2 linked regions of the Homo sapiens genome follow. The protein of the gene in region 2 purifies or fractionates together with the protein of the main gene of each other region. This does not show direct contact. Each region holds a gene or a part of one and is shown on either strand. Other genes may lie near its edges.

Evidence for each region. The genes of interacting proteins can lie anywhere in the genome.
Region 1: the proteins of CMSS1 (region 2) and PCDH7 purify together in Homo sapiens (affinity purification with mass spectrometry; 3 studies listed by BioGRID and IntAct, with this or other methods). This does not show direct contact.

What each region holds. Positions count from the first base shown.
Region 1 is NC_000004.12:31,136,347-31,140,101, reverse strand, and holds part of PCDH7 (protocadherin-7 isoform d precursor), read right to left. Parts: intron 1-3,755.
Region 2 is NC_000003.12:100,177,759-100,181,513, forward strand, and holds part of CMSS1 (protein CMSS1), read left to right. Parts: intron 1-546; coding exon 547-630; 3' UTR 631-3,755.

The DNA of each region.
Region 1 (3,755 bases), on a different chromosome or scaffold from region 2:
TTGACTGAATCTCCAATCAGCTATAAGTGAGATGCTCTTCAGTTCTTTCCTTCAGTCTTTACTTCACAGTCTGGAGTATTTTCTGCCAAAATTGATTTCCTCTATTGCTTTTAACGAAAGGCAGCTTGTCTTCTGTGCCATCATATACATGCAAGCTGCCACATCTCTATCCAAGAAGCATGACTTTTAATAAGGATCTCCTGTCATTTCCAAAGTAAAACACTTGATTGGGGACCACAGAGGAAGTTGACAAGCCTAATTGGCTGAGACATGTTGCAATGTTTGTCATCAAATTTAGAAAAATAATCAAGAAGGGCTATAAGAGATTCATCACAAGCAATCAAAACTTCCAATTTGGTTGACTAAAGTGAATCTTCCAAAGAAATACCAATGATTAACAAATGCAATCTGTATTACGATGCAACTTATTAAAGAAGGGCATGAGTGGAAAAGTATTTTTCTTTGTTTACATATTTTCTTATTTTAATTATGCATGCATATATTATGAATTTTTTCAACACAAAATTTATGCAGGATCTTAGATAAACATCACATGCAATTATTTCTTCTTTCCATAAAAGACATACTTTTAAACTGTCCTATTTTTTTGTGGCATTATAGAGGAAAGCCTTTCACAATTAGTAACTCTTCTTAGTCTTTCACTGAAGGATGTCTTTTCTAACATCTAAGAACATTATTTTATGCTTTAGTACTGTTGTTTTAAATTTTGATCTCAGTGAAGATGGAAGACACTTGATCACAAATCTTAGCTGGCATTGAGTAAATCAATACAAATGAACAACAGGAAAATAAAATAGTATTCTCTGTAAGCATTTTCCACAATAAAGCCAGTTCCTTAGAGAATTTTTTGTTGTTGTTTCTGTATTTCTCAACGCCCGCATACCCCATCAATCATATCAAACCTTGAGAAGACTGGAAGTAAAAAAATGGTATCCATCAAATCCTGTTCTTGCTTAGCATTACTTGTAGAGGTTTCCATTTTAACCAAGTTATGCTATTTACTAGAATCATTGCATCTTATTAGAAAGTTAAGATCCTTTCCTAGACATAAGGTTAATATCTCTCTTGAAAGTAGAGTTTTTTTTCTTTTCTTTTTTTTTTTTTTGAGACAGGATCTCACTCTGTTGCCCAGACTGGAGTGCAGTGGTGCAATCTTGCCTCACCGCAACCTCTGCCTCTCAGGCTCAAGCGATTCTCCTGCCTCAGCCTCCTGAGTAGCTACAGTTATAGGCGCGCACCACTACCACCTGGCTAATTTTTGTATTGTTTCAAAATACAATGGGGTTTCACCATGTTGACCAGGCTGGTCTTGAACTTCTGACCTCAAATGATCCACCTGCCTTGGCCTCCCAAAGTGCTGGGAGAAAGTAACAGTTTTTAAGCCATCAAACTAGCAAACAATCTTAGAACAATTCATAACACATGAAGTACTTCCCACATGAAGTTCATCTCTTTAATTTAGCACCTCAATCATATAGCAAGGAGGATGGAACAGCGAACGGGTCCAAGCTACGGGAGAGCTGAAGCCGAAGAATAAGTGTTTTGACTTTCAATTTACTGTTTTCCCACTACAACCCATTGCTTCTTCTTAAAATATAACAGCTGAGTTATTTAGAGGTCAATGACTGCTACTCATAACCATCTGAACAAGCTACAGTCTGCAGAGAAAGAGAAAAAAAAATCTGAGTAGCACAGGAAATAGATGTCACAGAGTCACAAATTTTACTACTTAGTGAAAAGAATGAAACAACCTCCCTAAAACTATACATTTTGGAAAGTGGAGAAAATTATATGTTTTCTTAAGAAGTCAGATTATCTCTCAAAAACATAGTATTTTTGTTTTTACTAGGCAGGGTAGATGGATGGGTGGTGGGCAGATGCTGCTAGATGCTGTTACAATGACCTCAACAAGAAGTGACAGATAGATAATAGAATCTTTAGAAATAACAAGGAAAGCCCAGGTTTAGAGAGGAATTTCATGTTTCCAGAAGATGCCTTACATAATTCAGAACCCATTAGAGACAAAATTATTATAGGAGAGCACAGTAGACTCATTAAGACTTGAAGACAGTTCTGCACCAGGAAGGATTTTAAGTATGCTGAGTTTTGCATCCTGTCAGAATCCCAGACACTCACTCTACTCCAGGTCCTTGGCTTGAGGCTAGAGATACATGGATCTTTGCATTTGCTGAGAGAAGGTATGAACATGTTATATTTAGTATTAAAATATTTCCAATGAGTTTTCTTAAAGATCAGATATGTAAAACTGTATGTATCATTTATTTGTTTAACTCACATATTATTTAATTTGCTGGCCATGTGAGATAAACGGATTGTTAAGTCAACGTATGGACTTCCCAGATGCCCACACCATTCCTCCAATTTGTTCATTAACATCAAGCTCTGGCATATGATTAACATTACTTGACAAAATCTGCAAAAAAATAAGAAGTATTTTCTTCTTTTTATTTATTTTGTTTTATTTTATTTTATTTTTCGAGAAGGGTCTCGCTCTGTCATCCAGGCTGGAGTGCAGTGGCACGATCTCGGCTCATTGCAACCTCTGCCTCCTGGGTTCAAGCGATTCTCATGTCTCAGCCTCCTGAGTAGCTGGCACTACAGGCATGCACCACCAAACCAGGCTAATTTTTTGTATTTTTAGTAGAGATGAGGTTTGGCCATGTTGGCCAGGCTGGTCTCGAACTCCTGATCTCAAGGGATCTGCCCTCCTCAGCCTGCCAAAGTGCTGGGATTACAGGCGTGAGCCTCTGCTCCCGGCCTGGTATTTCTTTCCTTTAGAGACAAAATAACAAAACAACACAAAACAAAACCACATGCAGGAACTTTTTCCTTTTTTCCTTTTTAAAGTGTTTGGTTTTCTTTCTATGTTTCTTGACTTCCCTCTACACAAAGACTTATTTTTTCTAGAAGCACACTTAAATGCTAGTGAAATTTGGTGGACTTACAAAAGGTTTTACAAAAGGGTAAACAAGAAAAACAAAAGATCAGTGAAAAATGTTTTACAACAAATGTTTTAACATTCCCTTCACTGTCATTAGTCTAAATGAAAATATCTTTTACTCAAATGATTAAATAAATGCTTTATTTTAAAATACCTGTTAGAAAATTGTTTACTTTTATTTTATATGATAGGGCTGAGAAAAAAATAATTAAATGCTGGTTAACCAAAACTTTTTTTTGGATGATTATTATCATAGTTAATAAAGATTGGAGGTGAGGAGACAAGATCCAAAAGATGCACAAGTGAGTTGGACTTGGCTTTTTCACGTAAATAACTAAAATATCCCTGCCTTTTGCCGGTTTGGGGAATTTAGGAAGACTGGACAGGCAAACACATCACAGTTCACGGTCAGGGCGGGAATCACTGACTCAGACCAGCAGTTTGTGATCCTCTAAATGTAGGAACACTTTCTGGAAGAGGAGAAATTTATAGTTATCTAAGTAAGTGTCACTCTGGCCACAAAAAGGCCATTAAGATTTCCAAAGAGTTTTTTAATTTATTACAGGATCACTTGATTTAACCAAAATAGAAGAGTATAGGAACACTGGCTAATCAATCAATCCTTGCTGTGGCATCATCTGTACCATTCCTGGGCCCTTCCTGCAAAGAGCAATGAACTTTTAAAAAGAGCAGGAGATTTAGAGTCCCAGTATTGCTCAGTGTGATTCCAGGCTCAACCACGTAGAAGCTGTGTGACTTCTGACATAATTTT
Region 2 (3,755 bases):
ATTACTTGAAGCCAGGAGTTCGAGACCCGCCTGGACAACAAAGCAAGACCCTGTCTCTACAAAACAATAATAATAATAGGCCAGGCACAGTGACTCACACCAGTAATCCCAGCACTTTGAGAGGCCAAGGCAGGTGGATCACTTGAGGCCAAGAGTTCAAGACCAGACTGGCCAACATGGCAAAACCCTGTCTCTACTAAAAATACAAAAATTAGCCAGGTATCATGGCACACACCTCTAATCCTAGCTACTCAGAAGGCTGAAGCATGAGAATCACTTGAACCTGGGAAGCAGAGATAGCAGTTAGCCGAGATCACGCCACTGCACTCCAGCATGGGCAACAGAATGGGACTCTGTCTCAAAATAATAATAATAATAATTTTAAAAATTTCAACTCTGAATCAAATGTGTGTTAGGACTTTTGCACTCTCTGATTCTGGCCATAACAGCTGGGTAAATATCAGGGAGTCCTGATGGTTGAATGTATTCACCAAGACCATTTTGGCTTGATCTTAATCTTTTTTTCCCCCCTTTTCTCTCATTTAGATAAGAAAGGAGGTATTCGAACTTCTGGAAATGGGAGTGCTCAGTCTGTGCAAGTCAGAATCCTTGAAACTGGGCCTTTTCTAAGTCTGTGTCCTAATGAAGATTCCAGTTTTCACAGTAGAAGTTGCATCTTATTTAATGACTCTGATACATTGCAAGCACTCAGTAAATATCAGCAAATAGTTTATGTTAATTGTGTCAACAGATGGATCACTGGAATGTGGGGATTCTGAAACAGAAATGAAACTGTCCTTTTGACAACTCTCTTATATAATAAAGTATCACCGGCTTGTGTATGATCCTTGTTGAGCGGACCGTGTTTTTCTGTCACCAACTGGCTTCTGATGTAACTGTGCAGGAGAAAGGAAAGAGCAGCTGGGTGACCTTAGGCAAGCGTAAGGTCTTGCCTCTCTGAGCCCCATCTTATCAACTCAAAGTGGGAATGTCTCACAGCATTGTTGAGGATTCCAGGAGATAGTACATGGGGAGCAGATTTGTAAACTCTGAGGCATGGTCCCAGCAAAAAGGGTGGCAGGTATATTAATCCATTCTCACATTGCTATAAAGAACTACCCGAGACTGGGTAGATTATAAAGAAAAGAGGTTTAATTGACTCACAGTTTCACAGGCTGTACAGGAGGCATGGCTGAGAGGCCTCAGGAAACTTGGCAGAAGGTGAAGGGGAAGCAAGCACATCTTCACATGGCGACAAGAGAGCAAGAGAGTGAAGGGAGAAATGCCACACACTTTTAAACGACTAGATCTTGTGAGAACTCACTCCCTATCATGAGAACAGCAGAACAGCAAGGGGAAAATCTGTCCCTATGATCCAGTCACCTTCCACCAGGTCCCTCCCCCAACATTGGGAATTATAATTCAACATAAGATTCGGGTGGAGACACAGAGCCAAACCATGTCAATTCCACCCCGGCCTCTTCCAAATTTCATGTTCTTCTCACATTTCAAAACACAATCATGCCTTCTCAACAGTCCCCCAAAGTCTTAACTCATTCCAGCATTAACTGAAAAGTCCAACTCCAAAGTCTGATCTGAGACAAGGCAACTTCCTTCCACCTATGAGCCTGTAAAATAAAAAACAAGTTAGTCATTTCCAAGATACAATGGAGGTACAGGCATTGGGTAAATGCTCCCATTCCAAGTGGGAGAAACTGGCCCAAAGGAGCTAAAGGCCTCATGCCAGTTTGAAACCCAGCAGGGCACTCTTTGAATCTTAAAGCTCCAAAATAATCTTTGACTCCATGTCTCACATCCAGGCCACTCTGATGCAAGGAGTGGGCTCCCAAGGCCTTAGGCAGCTCTGCCCCTGTGGCTCTGCAGGGTACAGTCCCCATGGTTGCTTTCACAGGCTGGTGTTGAGTGCCTACAGCATATCCAGGTACACAGTGTAAGCTGTCAGTGGATCTACCATTCTGGGGTCTGGAGGATGATGGCTCTCTTCTCACAGCTCCACTAGGCAGTGCCCCAGTGGGGACTCTGTGTAGGGTCTCCAACCCCACATTTCCCCTCTGCACTGCCCTAGTAGAGGCTCTCCATGAGGGCTTCACCCCTGTAGCAGACTTCTGCCTGGACATCCAGGCGTTTCCATACATCCTCTGAAATTGAGGCAGAGGCTCCCAAACCTCAGCTCTTGCCTTCTGCACACCCATAAGCCCAACAGCACGTGGAAGCTGCCAAGGCTTGGGGCTTGCACCCTCTGAAGCAATGGTTCAGCTGTACCTTGGCCCCTTTTAGTCACAGCTGGAGCTGGGGCAGCTGGGAATTAGGCTGCCATGTCCTAAGGCTGCACAGAGCAGCTGGGCCCAGGGCCTAGCCCACGAAACCATTTTTTTCCTCCTAGGCCTCTGGGCCTGTTTGGTGGGGCTGGGGAGGGCTGCCACGAAGGTCTCTGAAGTGCCCTGGAGGCATTTTATCCATTGTTTTGGCTATTAACATTTGGCTCCTCTTGTGCAAACTTCTGCAGTGAGCTTGAATTTCTCCCCAGAAAATGGCTTTTCTTTTCTACCACATGGTCAGGCTGCAAATTTTCAAGCTTTTATACTCTGCTTTGCTTTTAAATATAAGTTATCTCTGCTTATGCAAATGAGCATAGGCTTTTAGAAGCAACCAGGCCACCTCTTGAACACTTTGCTGCTTAGAAATTTCTGCCGGATACCCTAAGTCATCTCTCCCAAGTTCAAAGTTACACAGATCCCTAAAGCAGGGGCACAATGCCACCAGTCTCTGCTAAAGCATAGCAAGAGTGACCTTTGCTCCAGTTCCTGATAAGTTCCTCATCTCCATTTGAGACCACCTCAGCCTGGACTTCATTGTCCATATCACTATCAGCATTTTGGTCAAAACTGTTCAACAAGTCTCTAGGAGGTTCCAAACATCCCTCATATTCCTGTCTTCTTCTGATCCTTCCAAACTGTTGCAACTTCTCCCCGTTACCCAGTTTCAAAGTTGCTTCCACATTTTTTAGGTATCTTTATAGAAATGTCCCACTTCTCTGGTACCAATTTTTTGTATTCTTCCATTTTTACACTGCTATGAAGAACTACCTGAGACTGGGTAGTTTATAATGAAAAGAGGTTTAATTGACTTCCAGTTCCACAGACTGTACAGGAGGATGGCTGGGGAGGCCTCAGGAAATTTACAATCATGGCAGAAGATGAAAGGGATGCAACCACATCTTGTGGCAACAAGAGAGCAAGAGAGTGAAGGGGGAAGTGCTATACACTTTTAAACAATCAGATCTCTTGAGAACTCACTATCATGAGAACAGCAAGGGGGAAATCTGCCCCCATGATCTAATCACCTCCCACCAGATCCCTCCCCCAACACTGGGAATTACAATTCGACATGAAACTTGGGTGGGGACACAGCCAAACCACATCAGCAGGGTAGTGGTAGAAAGAGCATCAAGTGAATTTGGCCCTTTGTAAACGTATAAAAAGACAACAATATAATTACAGCTGTCTTATTAACTTTTTTTTAAAAACTTTCTATTTTGAAACTTCAGGCTTAATAGAAAAGTTTAAAAAATAGAGAATTCCCATATCCCCTTCCCTGAGCTTTCCCTGTGTTAAATTCTTGTATAACCATAATAGAGTTATCAAAACTAAGAAGTCATCACTGGTACTGTATAATTAACTAAACTACAGAGTTTATTTGGATTTCTCCAATTTTTCCACTAATGTCCTTGTTCT